Homo sapiens: one gene and its partner. The protein of the gene in region 2 purifies or fractionates together with the protein of the main gene of each other region. This does not show direct contact. Each region holds a gene or a part of one and is shown on either strand. Other genes may lie near its edges.

What was found.
Region 1: the proteins of RIN2 (region 2) and NAA11 purify together in Homo sapiens (affinity purification with mass spectrometry; 2 studies listed by BioGRID and IntAct, with this or other methods). This does not show direct contact.

The regions. Positions count from the first base shown.
Region 1 is NC_000004.12:79,314,043-79,324,478, forward strand, and holds the end of NAA11 (N-alpha-acetyltransferase 11), read right to left. Parts: intron 3,750-10,436; 3' UTR 2,605-3,749; downstream 1-2,604.
Region 2 is NC_000020.11:19,984,135-19,994,570, forward strand, and holds part of RIN2 (ras and Rab interactor 2), read left to right. Parts: intron 1-5,871; coding exon 5,872-6,177; intron 6,178-8,033; coding exon 8,034-8,165; intron 8,166-10,436. UniProt on the Homo sapiens protein: Ras effector protein. May function as an upstream activator and/or downstream effector for RAB5B in endocytic pathway. May function as a guanine nucleotide exchange (GEF) of RAB5B, required for activating the RAB5 proteins by exchanging bound GDP for free GTP.

The DNA of each region.
Region 1 (10,436 bases), on a different chromosome or scaffold from region 2:
GAAAAGAAAGGATGAGGAAGAAAGTAATGACCAAAAAAGCCCTAAAAAATAACATACATGATCTCACATTTATGTAAAACACATATGGAAGAATGTGTGTCGAATGTTCACACGTACTTTTAAAATATTTTTAATTTACAAATTATTTTTAGAACAGTTTTTACAGAAAGTTGAGCAGAGTTCCCATATACCATCTCACCCTTTCCCATATGTTTTATAATAAACAAAATTTTGTTATATCTCCTCTGAATTATTTGCTTCTTTTGATGAATTAATTTGTCTGGAGAGTATTAACATGGAAAAAAGCTCCCTTCATATTATCTTTATGAAGAATTCAACGCCTTGTACTGATCAGTGATTTTCAGATGACAGTGTGCAAAACAATCACCTGGAGGGTTGTTAAAAATACGGGACTGATTTTTTAAGTCTGAGCCAGAGACAAAGAAACTGCATTTTTAACATAGCACCCAGGTGATTCCGATGCACTAAGCATATGAACTATACTTTGAGAAACAATAGGCTAGAAATTCTTATCCCCGGATGGAAAATCTCTATTAGACCACCTGAACCCATACATAGGTCTGCTGCTCCTTAAAATTAAAAAAAAAAAAAAAAAAAAAAAGACTCAGTAGTCTTTTTCAAATCCTGTCAAATGTTGTCAGCATGGAAAACAATTTCAGTGTCTGAGCTAATTCATCAACCAATGAACACGATAAATTGAGTGAGAATTAGAAGTGAAACTTTTAAAAACCTCATACACCATTCACTTGCCTAGAAGCCAATGAGGCAAAATTGTTATATCAAAGCATCCTAATAGATATAATATTATCAATACATTTTATACTATATACACTTTTTTGTTGTACACGTTTTTAACAAACTCTATTTTTATTGAAATTATTAGGCCATCAAGACATAAACTCAAACAGGATTTATGTAAATGTATATTTAAGAAGGGGAATCTGAATTATTTAGGGTCTAATCTATTATTAAATGACCTAATGGATAGTCACAGGTGTTTTGGACCCCAGTCCAAGGGTTGGAGATGAGCTTTAAGACCCTTACTAGTCAAAGTGTGGTTCCGGGACCAGCAACATGAGCAATGTAGGAACTAGTTAGAAATGCAGATACTCAGGCCCCACCAGACATACTGAAAAAAAAAAAATCTGCATTTTTTAACATAATAACCAAATGACTTAGCTGCACATAAAAAATAAAGAAAACTTTCTTTCCAGTGTTTCAGTCCTGATCCTTTCTAAATTTTCCTGGCTGTGGACTAATTCCCAGTACTATTCCCCATTTCTCCCATATATCCACACCCCATTATTTTTATTTCAGATGGTCATCTCTCGCTTCTTGCTCTTATCTCCAAAGGGAAAACCACACAGACTCTAACTAGGAACTCACAGGCTTCATTCACAAGTTTTCCTCTTTTAACCAAAGAAAACGTAGTGAGCTGATCAATATCTTTAAATAATCTGCTAGCAGACCTGAGCACATCCAGTTTATTTAAAGCTGCAAGTGAATAAAATATAGCTAGTATAAGGGTATTCACACCATTAACTGTCCTCCCTCCTTGCTTCAAAGCCTTGCTTTGCTCTCTCTAGGACTGTGCCTCAGTAAAAAGTCCCTTCAGAATTAAAAAAAAAAAAATCACTTTTCCTGTGTAAAAAGAACAATGCTATTACAAAAAAAATGGTGCCACAGACTCTCACAATTTGTGTTTCAAAAAGCCACTGCTGCTGCTAAATCACCGCTACTGTCCTGGAACCATTATGAACATGCTAATCTATGCCCAAAGCAATATTAGTATTATTGTTTATTTTATTTTCATTATAGCCCAAACCAGATAGGCTGCTATAATTCTGCTTTCTCCTGGTACGAGACTGGGAAAGAAGATATAATGATAACAAAGAAATGCCAATTGTTTTAGTAAATAACACTGCAGAAGTCATATATCATTTCCCATTTTCCAATTGCTCCAACTCCTATCAAGTTACTAGAGACAGCAAGTCAATGTGCCTGGTGCTGGAAAAAAATCATTCAGGTAAGCTGAGGCTACTCCTTCTGTTTCTCCATCTGCTAAGCTGTTAACACAAAGACATATTGACAAAAGCTCAAGGAAAACATGGAATACTTCATCAGTAAGATTATGCTGCCCTAGAGACAGATGTTAGAAAGCTGTAATATTTAAAAATAAAGAGATAAACACATGGTTGAGAGGAAAGAATAAAATAATTTAGCGTTGAGATAGAATATTAAAAAGAAAAAAGGAAAAGATGGAAAGATAGATTTTATCATACTGTATTGGCACAAGAAATGGCAAATCCTTTCATGTAGGGAAAAACTTTTATATCTGCCTCAGGCAATCATTTACCATTAGGCAGACATTCTTAGAGTGCACTAGGGTAGATCTGTAAGAACTGCTTAGCAGGGCTAATTACGATTACACAGAAAAGACTTACCTCTTGTCACCAGATAAAGTCCAGGCTTTGACTTAAATCCATACACACCAGTTTTCATAAAAGTTTAAACATGAAAAATGTTATATACTTTGGTAATTCACATTCAGTGAACATAAAAACAACATTAAGTAATGATAACTCTGGATTTATCTGGTAACTTTTACTGCAGAGGTCAAGGTACTTTGTCTTCACTTATTTTTACTAGAGAAAAATAATAAAAATAGATTATAATTGTAGGTTATATAAATATTTACAATTGACATACAGTAGCCATGTATTAAGCAAACACATTTTTAAACAGCAGATTCTCCATTTTTGCTAAAATTTTAACACATTTATAAATAAAATGCAAAGAGTAGGAACAGAAAAGTAGAAGGAACTTTGGCTTTGAATTCAAACAGAATTGGGTTCAGATCCAGGATATTTAATTCACTTCTCTGAGCTTCAGTTTCCTCATCTGTAAAACAGGGATAATACTACCTACTTTACAGGGTTGCTGAGAGGGTTAAATATGTAACTAATGAAGGCTCCAGCATTGTGTGTGAACACTGCAGGTACTCAATAAATGCCAAGTGACATAATCACAAAAAAACTAACACAAACAAGCACATTAGAGATTCCAATTTAATTACCGTTTGTCCTTTTCTTAAAATCTCCAAGTTCTGATTGTACAGTAGAAGCTCCTAACTTAACACCTTTTCCCACTGGGAAGGTGATGCCCTCCTCCTCAAAAAAAAGGGAGGGGGGAATAGTATAAAGGAGGAGTTACCAGAGAAAGGAAAAGGAAACTGAATACTTCTTCCAGGAAAGAGGAGGAAGAGGGCATGAGGTCTGACTTCATGGTCCTGACTACTTCACCTCCTCAAGGATGAAAACTCAGGTAAATAATGGTTAAAAAACAAAAACAAAAACTGAAAGCTGGAAATCTTCAAGAGTTTGCCCTGCTTCCTGTTCATCATTCTAAAAGGAGAAAAACTTGCAGGATAACCACACCCAACAGAGGACTACTACAAACAGAATAAAATGGCAGCGTAGTGTGAGTAGGCCAAGAAAGGTTCTGTAATGGCAGGTCTCAAAGTTCCTTGGCTGTTGTGCAGTGGCTCTTGTGTCCAGGTATTCCTTCATGATCCCAGCAGGATATGTGAAAGGTGGTTGTTTATAGAGTTAAGAGTGAGAAGCCATTCTGGTCACTGTGAGATGATCCCCACAGCAGATGCTGCAGAGCAGACAGACTAAGCCAGGGTTCACAGAGTAGATGTGGTTGAGACATGAGGACCTGAAATGCTGTTGAAAAATGAGAAGAAAACAAATGAGAAAGGGAGAGCTATAAGCTCTGACAGCTCTGAAAGAATACTGGTTTAGTTAATGATAGACTGGAACAGCAGATAAAGAAACCCAGTAACTAGTTTGGACTAGATATATCTCCATGGCAGTCAGTGAGAATTCAGATGACTGCACAAAGACCACACACAGATCTGGGGCTCTCTCCCCTCCCTGCCATAAGAACACATGAACCTTTCCTGACATCTAAAGGACATTTCTGCCAGGAGAAAGGGACAGGAAGAACACCAAAAAACTGGGATTTACCCCCAAAGAACCTATTTTAAAACTAAAGAAACTGAGATCATTTTGCTTGTCATCTTTAAATTCTATCTCATCCTACTCCACTCAAAAGAAAATTTATTCCAATTCTAAAGAAATGAAAGGCCTTTTTAGCTCTTGATAAGTTAGATGCAATGTGTCCAACTCTATAAGTCATATTTTCTTTCTGAGGCCTGGACAGGAAACCAAAATAACCATAATGTTTCTTTATTCACAAATTAAAGTGCCCTAATTACATCAGGTAAGAGGAAGTAGGTAATTATATCAGGTAAGAGGAATCATACATACATTATTTTTCTCTCCTTTAAAAAAATTTATTATATGGGTAATTTGAGAGGTCCATTCATTCATTCATTCAATAAATATTTACTCAGTACCTTTTCATCTATCATATGCACACAGAAGTAAATAAGATTGAGGCTGACTATTATGCACAGAGCAGTTAAAAAGCATTTTTGTACAAAATCATTGTTATAGAAAATTCTGTTGCCAGAATAACAAGTGAAGCCAGTTGTAAGAGGTAATACTATGTAAAATCTTATTTTTTAAAGTATATTTGCTATAACAAAAGAGACACAAGATATGGAGGAACAGGTCAGAAAGACTATCATCATTGCCTTTTTCATTTTTGCATGAACAGGCATGCAAAAGAAGTTATATAGCTGTTTTAGTTATCTCAGTAAATACTGCTTGAAAATTTTAAGAAATTAAACTGAAAAAGTCAAATAACACTGTAATAAAGGCTATAGGATAGTTTGTTGTTTAAGAGTATAGGTATTTTTCATAAAGATTCCCTTTAAAATGTTAGTATTATAGTCCTTTTTTTGAGACAGGGTCTTGCTCTGTCACCCAGACTGGAGCACAGTGGTACAATCATGGCTCACAAGAGCCTCAAACTCCTGGGCACAAGTGATCCTCCAGCCTCAGCCTCCTGAGTAGCTAGGACTACAAGCACGCACCAGTATACACCACCACGCTGGCTAATGTTTTTTAGTTTTTGTAGAGACTAGGTCTTGCTATGTTTTCAAGGCTGGTCTTGAACTCCTGGCCTCATGCAAAGCTCCCGCCTTGGCCTCCTAAAGTGCTGGGATTACAGGCATGAGCCGCTGTGCCCACCCCAAGCCCTTAATGTCTTGCTTATTAAGTTCAAAGTTTTACATTATCAGGTTTTCTTAAAGGTGGGCTATGGAAGCCTGACAAATACATGCTATTTGTCGATATGGTGTTATAAACATGAAACAGAATACTATGGCTTTACTTTAAAAAAAAATCCTATAATTTTCCAAAGATATTTATCTATAGAAATGGCATTGTAGAATATTTTCAGAAAGGCTTTTATGGTGGCTCTTTGAATCATTGCCCATTCAAAGAATTTTAAATATTCTATCTAACCTCCTGTACCATAAAGCCCATTGGATTTCATATACTAGAGCATAGAGTACAAAATTTAGGAAAAACCTCTGCTTTTATCAGTTACTTCTGACAAAGTTGGTATTTCAGTCATCCTACATGTACATCATACACTGATTGAAAGGTGACATTGTTAGAGATTATAAATAATTCAACAAATGGCATCTATCTGATTAGTATTTCAAAACAATATTTTATCTCTTCCCAACCCCCTCTTTATCTTCATAGAGTGCAGTTGCATTTGAAATCTATGGTTTCTGGCATATCTGGGGTAAGGTTATACTACGAATTTACCAGACCTGTCAGTCTGTAGGTTTCTTCCATATTTCATTATATCATTCCAGTTATAATTAGTTGTCTGGTAAAATTAAGAACAGTCTATTTCAGTGACTGCTCATGTGAACATTTAACAACTTTTTGTTAGAATGACAGTTTAGCGACACAAAGAATAAACCAGAAAGGGAGAGTCACTGAAGTAACCTTACTTAACTCAATGTTGCCAGCTCAATTGAAAACACTAAGATTTTGCATTTTTTTCATTTTTGTTATTAATAATCAAGCACATATTTCTTGTCAAGAGATAAGCAGCAGTTTGATGACATTCCTGCCTCAACCAGCATGTTTTGAACTGACCTGTCTTCATTGCTATGGCTCCCAAGAAACTCTGCCGTTGACAAGCGTTGATTCAGCTGAATGCTTTGACATTTAGCTTGTCAGTGAAAGCTATTTTAATCATTAAGATGCATTTCCCATCCAAGATTGCAAACTGTTGCTGCTCATACACAACATTCTATCATTTGATTACCGTGGAGAAGAAGAGAACCTGAAAAGTTACTCTTACTATCGATTATATTAAGAGCTAAAATTTATTGATTATTTTACTGTGTGTGAGGAGTTGTGCTTAGCAATTTACATAGATTGACTCATTTAATCTTCTCAATCATGGAGTCTGACCACCTGAGTTTGCATCCTTGTTTTCCACTATCTGTATAACATGCAGCCCTCCCTGTGACATGATTTCCTCAACCACAAAATGGAGTAATAGTACCTACCTCACAGGCTTATTATGAGGAATAAATGAAACACATCATTAACAGTGCTTAGAATTAATACCTGCAAAACAGTGCGTTTTCATAGTGTGAAGAGCAATTTTTATTACCATTTTTTAGATGAAATCAACCAGTTCTTCACCAACTGTCCTGCTCAGCATCACTTCTAACTCTGTCTCTGTTCCCAAATCCAAAAGTACAGATAGGGAAAATGAAAAATATTTTTTTTAGGACATTTTTTCTATAGGTATTTGAACTCCAGCTCCACAGGAGGGAGCACCACAATTGTAGAAGGATAGTACTTTTGCAGTATGAGCCTTTTAAATGTTTTTCCTGTTCTTTCTTTCTTCACTGTAGCCTTTCTCCATTCAGGGAGCTAGACCTATGTGCTGGTGAATCCCTATTAAATGGGATGCAAGTGAAGATTTAGACAGTTTTGGGGACTTCAGAGGAGAGGGGTCATTTGTCCCAGGTTTAATTAGTGGCATAATGGCAGCAAGATAACAGAATCCCATAGTTTTCCACGCCCAAGTTTGTGAAGCAGCAGAATAAATATATGTCAGGTGTTTATGTAGACAACCTCAGACAGCCTAACAGAGTTCCCTGGGCCATGCCATGGAGTGAGAGCAGCTGTATGATCCCATTGCTTCTAACTGGGCATGGAAGCAAAACTTCTCAAAGTCCAGAGCACCACTAGGATGTTTCCTATTGTGGCAGAAACTATGCTGTGTTGTTGCTGAACTCCTTCCTTTCTTTCCTGAGCACAAAGCTAAACTAAATATCATAGCCTCCCCTGCAGTTAGTTGGGTAAGACTTGACTTTTAAAACCTTTATTAACCACTATATACATTCTTTTCTCTCATCTGCTAGTTGAATGTATATGAACCAGTTGAAGGTCTTATGATCCTAGAAAATGACAAGAGTCATTGAATTAGGAGTTCTTAACCTGGGATCTATTTAATAAGATGTAGGAGAACCATGACCTTGGATTTGGAACAAAAACAATTCTGTATTTTCATCAACCTCTAACTGAAATCTGGCAATTCTTTAAATTATGAACATAGGAATCAATGCACAGTAGTATTAGCAATACTTGAGACTTTGTCACCAATAAAACTCATAGGTATTTTCATATCACATTATAGATACTTAAGGTATCTTAAATATCATTTATACTAAAATTTACTTTGAAATAATAGTAATTATTAGGCTATTCAATATGCTAACACAAAGCACATATATTACAACAAAAGTATTTTTAAAATAGTTTGATAACTATATCAATGAAATTGTTTTCCTTTGTAATCTGGTATAATTTTTACATCTTTTAAAAATTTTTCTGCTTCACCAGATTGCCAAAGGGAGCTACAGAAAATTAAGAATCCCTGTCTAAATGATCCCTGAATGATACCATGGAGTAGGGTCCATCTTTTCCCCTCTACTCCACATCACCACCACACTGATGACCCACATTGTACTATGATGTGAGAAATAAGATTTTATTGGGTTAAGTTACTGAGATTTGGAAGTTAATTTTTAGAGCAGTTAGCCTGTGCAGACTAATACTCATATACCCTTGCTACCAAAATGGTAAGAGACCTCCGGTTGGAAAAGACCCAGAAGTGAATCCTGAGGATCAAAGATTGGATGGGGCCATTGAATATGTCTCAGCAGATAACAACTCAGAAAGACGGTGAAGCTCAGTCTAGGAAACATTTCCTTCAACTTAGAAATAAAGTTCAATTACGGTATCATAAAGAAACAGTTCAATTATTCTTGAATTTGTATGCTGAAATTTATAACTGTGACACAACAATGAATTTTCTTATTTATTATTTCTCTCTTCTTTTACTACAGTGGCAGTTATTTTGTTTCTCATAGCAGATATTAAGTGCTTTTGAATTCATCAGTTTTATAGGTGTGTGTGTGTGTGTGTGTATATATATATATATGGTTTTAAAACAACCTCTGATTAGCTCTGTTCTCAGCTAGAGTTTAACAATGAAGAGAAGCAAATAACTACAAAGATGAGATCAATACTGTGTAAGTCCTTCTACGAAGGAATTTGAAAGTTGAAATTTTTTTTAAAAGGTTTGTGCATTCAAAGAGTCTTGAGAGAGCCCTCCAGGGTTTTCAAGACAGGTGTAAATTTGACAACGCTTTCTCAAGGCATCAAGTTTTAATTTCATCTTTGCTTTTAGACTGTTCTGCCGGCTTTATTTTTTAGAAAAAATGAATCAGTCACTGTGAAACTTTCAGGTTATTAAAAGTCAGATGCAAAATCTCCTCTGAGGACAGATTCTTTCTAACCACCAAAGACTTACTGTATCTAAATTTTTATAACATACTGAACTGTAACTGAATGAAAATAAAATGGGATTAGTGTGTTATAGCTTCGGTTTTGGCATTAAAATGCAAAAAAAAAGTCCATTTATTCTTAAATGCTATATAATATAAACATCAGTCTGTCTTGATCACTGCTGTATACTCAGCTCCAAGCCTAATGCCTGACAAATATTTTTATGAATGAGTAGACTAATCAAATAGCACTTACTGAAATTATATACAGAATACACTATTTATGACTAGACTTTGCCATGAGAAGTTGCTGCCTTTCATACATGTAAGGGTAAGGTGACTAGATTAAGATGTTAAAGCCTGTAAACTGCCAGTAGCTCACCGACCCTTGAAATTCCTAAGGCGATACAAAGTCCTTTGATGGAAGAAATACTGTGGTATATTATTACAATTAAGTTGTTTCTAACATACCAATCCTTTAAAACTTAGTTTCAGTGGTTTCTTAGTATTAGCATAAGTGTGTATTAAGAAGTACAAGAGCTGGGCGCGGTGGCTCACGCCTGTAATCGCAGCACTTTGGGGGGCTGAGGCAGGCAGATCACAAGGTCAGGAGTTCGAGACCAGCCTGGCCAATATGCTGAAACTCTGTCTCTACTAAAAATACAAAAATTAGGCCGGGCACGGTGGCTCATGCCTGTAACCCCAGCACTTTGGGAGGCCGAGGCGGACGCATCACGAGGTCAGGAGATCAAGACCATCCTGGCTAACACAGTGAAACCCCGTCTCTACTAAAAATACAAAAAAATTAGCCAGGCGTGGTGGCAGGCGCCTGTAGTCCCAGCTACTCGGGAGGCTGAGGCAGCGGAATGGCGTGAACCCGGGAGGCGGAGCTTGCAGTGAGCCAAGACAGTGCCACGGCACTCCAGCCTCGGCGACAGAGCTAGACTCCATCTCAAAAAAAGAAAAAAAGATACAAAAATACAAAAATTAGCCAGGCGAGGTGGCGGGCGCCTGTAGTCCCAGTTACTTGGGAGGCTGAGGCAGGAGAATAGCTTGAACCCAGGACGTGGAGGTTGCAGTGAGCCGAGATCGCGCCACTGCACTCCAGCCTGGGCGACAGAACGAGACTCTGTCTCAAAAAAAAAAAAAAAAAGTACAGTAATTGTTTTGGCTCTTTAACTTTTCATGCTAATTTTCACACATTCGAAAGAGTAAATGGCATAAGGAACCCCCTAAGTACCCATTTCCCAACCCAACAATTATCATTGCCATTCTTATTTCATTTTCCCTCTTTCAATCTTTTTCTTCTTTTTTTGCTGGATTATTTTAAAGGAAATCCTAGGCATCCTATTATTTCAGCTATAATTATTTCTGTATGTATCTTTAACAGATAAGGACTTTCTAAACATAATACAATACCATTTAGCTCCTCTAATAAAATTATTAGTAATTCCTTAATATAGTCCCCGTTCAAATTTTGCCTGATTATCTCAAAAATGTCTTATACATGGTTTGTTTGAATCAGTATCCAAACAATGTCCATAGCAGTTGAGTTTAATGTATCTGTAAAGTTTAACAGAAAATGCTTCATCTTTTTTTGTGTGTGTGCCAT
Region 2 (10,436 bases):
GGAATTGAACAATGAGAACACTTGGACACAGGGTGGGGGACATCACACACCTGTACATTTTTAATACAATCATGTGTTGTTTAACTACAGGGATACATCTGAGAAGTGCACTGTTAGAGAATTTTGTTGTTGTGGGAGCATCATAGAGTACTTACACAAAGCTAGATGGCATAGCCTACTACATACCTAGGCTATATGGTATATCCTGCTGCTTCTAGGCTACAAACCTGGACAGCATGTGACATACTGAACAGTGTAGGCAACTGTAACACAATGCTCAGTATCTATATATCTAAACACGTCTAAACACAGGAAAGGAACAGTAAAAATACGGTAACAGAATCTCATGGGGCCAGGCGTGGTGGCTCATACCTGTAATCCCAGCACTTTGCGAGGCTGAGGTGGGTGGATCACCTGAGGTCAGGAGTTCAAGACCAGCCTGGCCAACATGGTGAAACCCCATCTCTACTAAAAATACAAAAGTTAGCTGGGTGTGGTGGTGCATGCATGTAATCCCAGCTACTCAGGATGCTGAGGCAGGAGAATCACTTAAACCTGGGAGATGGAGGTTGCAGTGAGCCAAAATTGTGCCACTGCACTCCAGCCTGGGTGACAGAGTGAGACTCTGTCTCAAAAAAATAAATAAGAATCTTATGGGACCACCCTGGCATATGTGGTTCATCTTTGACCAAAACACGCCATTATGAAGCATGTGATTATATTACATGGTTTAGACTCTGGGTGTGGTTAGATTCCCTGGAGAGTATTGATTTTTACTTTGTGTTGTTTGAACAATCACCAACTCAGTTAGGTTCAGACTGCTGGCTCTGTCTTGCCTTCTGTGGACAATGATTCTGATGGCTGTCCAGACAGTGGCAGTGAGAGGGGAAGGGACTTGGCCTCCCCACGGCTCCCAGGGCTCTTTCTAACACAAGCAATTTCTCCAGTCTTCAGCTTTGCCTCTCAAAGTCTCACTGCCTTCTGGCCAGCAGTGGAAATGCAGAAAGTGTACAAACAAAGCCACTGAATTGCTGGTCTTGTGATGTTTCCTTGTCTATCTCCAGCCTCTGGAATCCATGCAGTAGGTGGTCAGCATGAAGGAAAGGGTCAAGGTTTCTGTCTCTCTTCCTTAATGGAGGAGTGAATCAATTCTTGGAGAAGTAATAAGAGTGAATCACTTCTTGTCTAGAAGCCAACACATTGAATACTTCCTATAAATTATTACAGTAAGTGACATTTAGTCAAGGAAAAGCCAGCAATTGCTATGGCCTCTACCACTTTCCTCTTATGGATTATTTTGGGGCCAGTTGATATAATCTTGATAAATATTTTCAGAAAACTTGTTTCCAGTTTTGATCATTTAGAAACATTTAGTTTCTAAAGTTCAATATGTTGTGGTTCAAACGATTTTTTACTATTTGCTTGTTACTAGAAAAATAGAAAAGAAATGAGTGAGGCTGGGCATGGTGTCTTATGCCTATAATCCCAGTGTTTTGGGAGGCTGAGGTGGGAGGATCCCTTGAGACCAGGAGTTCGAGGCCAACCTGGGCAACATAGTGAGACCCCCAGCATCTCAACAACAGCAACAACAAAAAGACCTTAATGAGCTTTAAAAGCATATACTCATCTTACTCATCTGTAAAGGTTTCAGGTGTTTGTTTTGCACGCGTGCTTGTGGATGAATACAGTTGACATTACTCCAAGAACTCAGGAAACATTTTATGAGTTCCAGTCCTGGCTCTCCCTCTTGATAGCTGCATGACAAAGATGTCCTTGGGTTTCAGTTTCCTCATCTGTGAAATGAAAACATAGTAGGCCTCCCTGGATGGAGTTTGTCTGAGGATTTGAAGATCCAGTGCAGGTAAAGTGGCTAGAATAGTGTCATTGTTCTGAGAGTTTAAAAGGTTTTGTTTTTTTGTCCAGGAATTAACGATTAATGCAAAAAGAGATCATAGAAAAAAATGGAGAGTAGTAATTTATGAGAAATGTGACCAATTTGTTCTTTCCTCTTTTGTCTGAGGTGGTTCATGTTATGAAAGATCGTCTGTTCCTTGGGCTCCTCAAATCCTTTTTCCTTCTCGCTTTATGAGCAGAAGCTTGCTTTTCCTATTGGAGAGAGCCAGCTGGATCGTGGGTCCCTCTTTTCATTTAGGCTCTTGTCCCCTACTCTTTATGTTTATTAAGGATTTGGGGAGGGTGGGGAGGAGGAGTGGGATAAACCTCTGAAAAAAAAATGCAGGGACCAGTTTCCTTATTTTTAAATTATGGTCTTTAAAGAAAAATGTCCTAAAATCTACCACTAGCAATTACTTTTTCATTTTATTTTCAGAAAACGGGCTACTCCCTTGGCAATTGGTCCTAGGTTTCAACCCTCCTAAGAGATTTCCACAGCCCCTTTTATACCCAAGGGTGGAATTCCCCTCGAAGGCCAGCACCCCTCCCTGGCAGCAAGGATGAGTTGCTCAAGGGAGCCTGTCCAACTTGCTAGTAACGACTTTTCTGATGTCATCATTCCCCAGAAGCAGCTGCGAGCCTTTTGGGGATGATTTGTATTAACACTCTGGCCCAGAGGTGACCGGGCTCACTCTGATGATAACAGTTGCCCGTGGGGTTCAAGGTGAAAATCTCATCCAGGTCTTTAGTTGTTTTCTGTTTTTCTGATTCATATACATTTATTGAGGTTTAACTTACATCCATAAAGTGTGTAAATCTTAAGTACTCGGCTCAACAGAATTTTACACACATGCACACCCATGTAGACACAGTCCAGATCCAGATCCAGAACATCTCTAATCCCTGGTGTCCTGTCCTGGCCCAGATCCTCCCCAAGGGGGACTGCCATCATGACTTCTGTCCCACAGGTTAGTTTTGCCTGCTTTTGAACTTCATATAAACGAAATGCTGTAGGAGATACTCTTGTGTCTGGGTTCTTTCACACAGCCTTGCGTTCATGAGATGCATCCATGTTGTTCTGGAGCAGTAATGTGAGCTTTTTCATTGAATAAATACATTCCATTGTCTGAATTTCATTGTAGTATTCCATTGAATGAATATATCCAATGTATTCATTTCTGTCCAAATGGGCCTTTGGGTTATTTCCAGCTTGGGGCTATTATAAATAACATTACTATGGACATTCATTTACGTTTCTAATTAATGACTGACATGGCCTTTGTCCTCCCGTGGTGACCCTATTTTAACCAAGTAGTGGTCACTTACAACCATGAATGTAGCTTTCAGAATGTTTGGATGAGAGGAATAAACTGGCGAGTATTTATAAAGTGACTTGAACTTTACAATTAAAAGATTATTTACTTTGAAAAGCTGTATAAATGGTTATTTAAAATAGTTGTGTGGCTTCTATCAAGCCATTAGTCATCTCTGAGCCTCAGTTTCCCCATCTGTTAAACGGACATAATATTAGTATTGTGCAAAAATAATAGAATTATTGCAAGGATTAGATGATAGTGAAGTAAAGCACTTAGATGGAGGCTGGCCCATCTGAGCACTCAATATTAATTTCTGTTATTAATTTTTTATCATAATGATGATATAAGGTAAAGTCAAAGATGCTATGAAGTTGCACGAGCTTATTAACACAAAGCAACCAATGTAAACCAAGTAATTTGTTTTAATGCCAGATGTGAATAAGTTGTTCTGCTTTTTTTCCTACTTTATAACCTCCTTCGCATCAACCTTGATTTCTATAGTTATATAAACCTTTGTATTTAAACAAAGAGATCTCCTGGATAAGTTGGAAGAGGAGAAAGAAAAAAACAACTTGGGCTGGGGAATCTGATGATTGTGGGGTCAGCGTTAACTTTTGGCCTCAGTTTTAACCTTGGGGGACTGTTTTCATTGTTTGTACCTCTGCGTTAGATTTATCTTTGTCCCTGGCCTTCTAATAATAGGTAATCATTTGAATTCAATAAGATCTGATCCAGCGTCAGGAATTCCAAAGGCCAGAGAGACAACTCAACTATTTCTTTTGCTTTTTCTTTTGAGACAGAGTCTCATTCTGTCACTCAGGCTGGAGTGCAGTGGCAGGATCTCGGCTCACTGCAAGCTTTGCCTCCAGGGTTCAAGAGATTCTCATGCCCCAGCCTCCAGAGTAGTTGGTATTACAGGTGTGCGCCACAACGCCAAGCTAATTTTTTGTATTTTTGGTAGTGATGGGATTTCGCTGTGTTGGCCAGGCTGGTCTTGAACCCCTGGCCTCAAGTGATCTGCCCACCCCAGCCTCCCAAAGTGCTGGGATTACAGTCATGAGCCGCCATGCCTGGCCTAACTTAACTATTTCTGATCTTATATGTAAGTGGACCCATTGGCTTCCCAAATGGAATAAAATTAAGGTGTCATCATTTTATGCGTAGATGCTGCAGCAGAACCCAAGGGGCTCAGATGAGAATGTGCAAACGTGTGAGGTCAAAAAGCTGCTATTGACAAAGCAGAGGAGTTATTATTATATAAATAGCCTTCAGCCCGCATCTCTGGATTTATGGTACTGGTCATTTTAGTATTAGCCAAGAAAGCTACTCCACTGGGAAACCATTCAATGAAGGAGGGAAGAATAACGCCTCCCACACCCAAAGGTGTTTCCTAACTCGGAACAGAAACACATTTCACACATTTTTAACTTTTAATTTTGAAATCATTTCAGATTTCCAGGAAAGTTGCAAAAATATCATAAAGAAATATCTACCCTTCACTCAGATTCCCAAATGTTAGCACTTCGCCACATCTGCCTCATTCTTCTTTCTCTCTCTTCACACACACACACACACACGCGTGCACACACACAGATACATGCACGTACACATACATGCACACAAATACGTGCACACACACTGTCTCTCATTTTTTCTGAACCATTTAAGTTGCAGACATTATATCCCTTTACCCCTAAATACTTCAATGCATATTTCCTAAAAACAAGGCTATTCTGTTTAATAACTACAGTATAATTATCAGACCTAGAAAATTAACACTGATGCCTTGTTAGCACTATTACCTTATCTGCAGGCTGTATTCGATGCCCCACTAATGTCCTTTATAGCAAATGAAGAATTTTTTAGTCCAGAATCTGATCCAAGATCACATACTATATTTAGGTGGATCTATTTCCTCAGAAAACATTCTTTTTTTTTTTTTTTTTTTGAGATGGAGTATCACTCTGTCACCCAGGTTGGAGTGCAGTGGCACAATCTTGGCTCACTGCAACCTCTGCCTCTTGGGTTCAAACAATTCTCCTGCCTCAGCCTCCCCAGTAGCTGGGACTACAAGCGTGCACCACCATGCCCAGCTAATTTTTTTGTATTTTTAGTAGAGATGGGGTTTCACTATGTTGATCAGGCTGGTCTCCAACTCTTGACCTCAAATGATCTGCCTGCCTCAGCCTCCCAAAGTGCTGGGATTACAGATGTGAGCTACCACGCCTGGCCCTCAGAAAATATTCTAAGAGATGTTGAATGCTCATTATTAGAAAATCCTTCCTTTAAGATAACATCTTTGCTCTCCTGTTAATTGGATGACCAGTTGAAGGACTAGGTCAAAAGAATGTCTTCTAGCATATTTGCCTGTACTTACAGGGATAGGGCATGAAAGTAATTAAAACAAATATATTTCATTGTATTGATTATATGCAAGTTAGACATCATTGGGGAAGATTCGGTCTTCCTGGCTTTTCAGAGAAAAATGTTAACATGTGAGTTATGGCGCTGCTTGGTGTTGTCTGTTGGTTGGATGTTAAGGTGTACAATTTGTGTGCCTGCAACCAATGCATAGAGTTGCAGATGTCCATTGTAAGAAAGCAGATGTTGCATTTCTTCTTTCTTCAGACAATAGTCATAGTAGCTACACTTTCTTTGGCAGATGTGGTGCTGGAAAAAGCCATGCACAAGTGCATCTTGAAGCCCCTCAAGGGGCACGTGGAGGCCATGCTGAAGGACTTTCACATGGCCGATGGCTCATGGAAGCAACTCAAGGAGAACCTGCAGCTTGTGCGGCAGAGGAATCCGCAGGAGCTGGGGGTCTTCGCCCCGACCCCTGATTTTGTGGATGTGGAGAAAATCAAAGTCAAGTTCATGACCATGCAGAAGATGTATTCGCCGGAAAAGAAGGTCATGCTGCTGCTGCGGGTCTGCAAGCTCATTTACACGGTCATGGAGAACAACTCAGGTGAGGCCGCTGGAAGCCCAGGCTTCGTGCCGCTTCCCTTCCGGGCCGGGGACAGGCCTCTCTCCTGTCAGGCTTTCTGATTCCCAATTTCTCCTCCCTTTGGTCTCTTGATTTCACCAAGTGGCTTACAGAACTACAAGTGATTCTCTGATATCCGGCACATTAGTCACATGCAACAGATTAAAATGTAAGCAGATGAGGGCAACAAGATTTTTGTACCAGGCCGATTTAATTAAAGATTTAGTTCAGAGTATGGTTACAAATTCAGTCTCTGGAGTCTGAGTTCAAATCTTCCCTCCGAGAAGAAGAAAATTAACTGAGGGACTTTGGCCCCCTTAATCAACCTTGCACGCTGTAGTTTTCTGCGTCTTTAGCCGGATGTCACCCTTTCTTTCATGAGGTGGGGATTAGCTGAGACAGCCCACACATAGCCCCAAGTGCAATGGAAATGTCAGCGATTATCATTACAACATTTTGGCCAATGAGGGTTTGTGTCAATGACCTATAGTATGTGAAAGAAACTCTGAACATTCAGTTATAATGAGGCCTCATTAGAGCCGCTTCATTGGCTAGCCCTTCTTTGCTACAAGCTGAAGCAATATAATTGAAATTCACCGAAGAGTTACAATCTTGGAAAGCCAGCCCTCAGATTTAGCCTTGTTGTTTCCTGTAGATGCAGGGGTAACCATGAATCCTGGATAGTAATGGAGCCCTGCATTGTCCCAGGTCTTCAGTAAGCTTATTGTAATTCTGAAGACGATTACGAACTTTTCTTCTGAGTGAAATTGCTTAATGGAGAAGCAGCAGAGAGAAAACACAGGCTGTATTAACCACTGCTTGAGTAGACAGGAATGTGTGTGCACTTTGGGAATTGTTGAGTGAAGAAGTTAAAATATGAGCTCCTGGGCGTGGTAATGATAGCAAGTGAACATCACCTCACAAGTTTGCAAGCATATTTCACATATAGGAAACATATTTTCTATAGTTCACAGTTATTTATAAAAATTCCCCAAATAATATCTGAATATCTGAATTCCCCAAATAATTCAGAAGGATTATGCTCTTCTGAAGCACAGTTCCTCAACACACACACTAAAGACATTAATGTAGACAGGATAATTCTTCTTTTGGGGGCTGCCCTGCTTCCTGTAGGAAGTTTAGCAGCATTCCAGATGTCATCTGCATCCCCACCCTCCAGTTATGTCAATGAAAAATGTCTTCAGACAGTGCCAAATGTCCCCTGGGGGACAAAATTATCTCCAGTTGAGAACCACTGATGTAAAGAAAACTAGAAGTAAACACTAACATTTTTTGCCATATATTTCCATTAATCAATGTGTATATTCAACATGTACTGAATTGGCACGTTTAAAGAAATTAACTGTGTGCTCACATTAAATACAGAGCAAAGTTAGCTTATTCCTGGTTTGAGTTTGACCTTGTCATTATGTTTGTAAATAATGTGCACAGCAAGAAAGAGGAAGTAAGACACAAAGAATTAGCATAAGTAAATATTTTGTAAGCATTTTATAATCTTGTTTGCTGAAAGTTAAAATATTTTAACGAGTATTCTGTTCTATCACATAATTTTATACAAATTATAAAAGTAGGGAGAAAATCTGTAATGTGTTCATTGGTTCATAGACATTCATTCTGAAACTGTAAGGGCTGGTCTCTAACATTAGCAGCTGGGAGGGTCAGAGGCTACATAGGATTCCAGAAACACTCACCTCTGTTTATAAATAGCACAGTTCCCCCCAGAGTGACTCCTTGCTGTCTAATAAAAGCAGCAAGAAGGATGTGAAAGAAAGAAAAGTTGGTAAAAATATTCCATCTCCTTCTCTTCCTGCTCTCAGGGAGGATGTATGGCGCTGATGACTTCTTGCCAGTCCTGACCTATGTCATAGCCCAGTGTGACATGCTTGAATTGGACACTGAAATCGAGTACATGATGGAGCTCCTAGACCCATCGCTGTTACATGGAGAAGGTAACTGCTTTTGAGAAAAGTTGAAGGAACTGGGTGCTATTTTTTTCATTTTTTTATAATTGAGACGAAATTCATGTCACATAACATTAATCATTTTACAGTGAATAATTCAGTGGCATTTAGTATATTCACAATGTCATGCATTCTCCACCTTTATTTAGTGTCAAACTATTTTCCTCACCCTAAAATAAAATTCTGCACCCATGAAGCAGTTACTTGGGTGCTTTTTTGACATCTTAAGTGTTAACTGAATTTTTTATTAATTTAAAAGAGTGTACTAACCTTTTTCTGATTGCAAAAGTAATACACACTCGTGGTAGAAAATTTGGAAAAGTCAGGAAAAACACAAAGAAAAAATATAACCCCATCTTAACTATACTTCACTAAGATTGCTTAATGGCAATAAAAAAAATACATTCAGTAGAATAAATGCCATTTTTTTTGGAAGAAATGGTTTCTTTGGCTCCAAGAGGAAATTATAAACTTTTGTTGAGGATATTTCCATTGCCAGGAAAATAACCTGCTCTTATATTAGTGAAATGGATAAAAGCTTGGCTTTGTTTTTATTTTTTAAAATTTCGTTTTCAAGGTGAAAACAGTATTAATTTTTTTCCAGTTTTTTTTAAGTATCTTTTCATTTTTATAGTAAAAATACAGGGGTGTGGAATCTGTGCAGTTTGCTCTCAATTTACGTTGGCATTCGGGTTCCTTCTCCTTGTGTCTGCCTAACCCCAACATGTCTTAGCAGAAATTCCTTCTCCTTACACATAGCTTAGGTATTTTACATGGAAATGATTAGGATGTTTGGCACAGTAGTGCACAGCCTTGAAACGCAGAAATAACTGGGACTCTATGTGAGCTTATCTTTTCAAAGGAGAACAAATCAGGGCCTGTGCACTGTGAATCCTCTTAATCCATTTTTATATATCCAGATAAAAGCCCAGACAAGCCCTGGGGGGGATTGTCACGGTTTCGTTTTTTTTTTTCCCGTGAGTTTCAGTCTGGGCTTGAGTAGAAAGGTCCATCTCTGACAGGATTCCCTAAGGAATGAGTCATCCCAGCATTTTCCCTGGAGGGAATGAAATGCATTTTTACCACCCCCAGAATGTGCCCCCTTAGTCTCCTCAGTCCTGTAATGTGAATTCACCAGGCCTTAACTTTTCCTGTCGGAGGGACCGCCCTCCTTGGAGCCCGATTATGCCCTTCCCACGTGACCATGGGTAGTGCTGACTCAGGATGGGGGATGAATATCTCTCCTCCCGTACCCGATCCCAGGCAGGTATGAATGGGCCTCTTTCATGCTTTCACCCTTTAGCCTCTTCTGTCCCCTTATTAATATTACTAACCATGGAACCAGACACTCCCCGATGAGCCTCCAAGGCCCTCCCTGGAGCTTTTCTTGCCTGCTCTGCCCTGGGATTAGACAGGACAAGGCCAAACATGTGGTTTTGCCCAGGGACCAAGAGAAGCATGTTAGTCTACATAGCATGCTTTCCTTCCTTCCACTGTAATGTTTGTTATTAATACAGTTTGGGGTTTGGTTATTCTTTTTCGAGCTTCGATCATGTTTAATTCTAGTAATATAAGTATGTAGAGCTCTTAGGGCTTTGGGGAAAAAGACACGCCGGTTTCACTTAGAAAGTCGATTCTGTTGCTGACAATGTGCACTCAGGACAAACATTGCTTGTATCTTGTGGCTCAAGGATAGAAACAGCTACTTCCTGCCCCTTTCCCAGATTGGCCCAGGGCAAGGCCCTGTGTTGATGACTAATGGACAGGTGGCTGTCTTCTCCTCCACGAATCCCACAAGAAAGACAAGGGCACAGCTAGTGAGGATACAAAAGCTGCTGGTGAGCTCGCACTTAAATAGAGCCTGCTTCCACTTAACCGTGTCTGGGGCTTCTTGGCTGCCTTCCTTGGGAAGTAGGCGGCCCAGTTGGGTTGGCTGTGATCACAGACCAGGCCTGCACAGCATCGAACTGAAGCTATGCAGCCTGGGAGGAAGAGGCTACTGAGCAGTGGCAAAAATACAGATTGGACTTTTCCGTGCCTGCCCAAAGTCCTCTTTGGTTTGCGGGGTAGCAGCCACGTCTGTTTTCCGCTGTTTAAGCAGGTATTCTCATTTACCAAAAAGGCGTCATAGAATCCCTTAGAAGTGCACAGCTCTTGTGGTAGGGTTATAGTCTTGCTGAAATTTAAAACCTTCTCTAATTGCATCCACATGTTTCAAAGTGTGGTCAATTTTGTGCTTCCAGCATTTGAGTTTTCTCC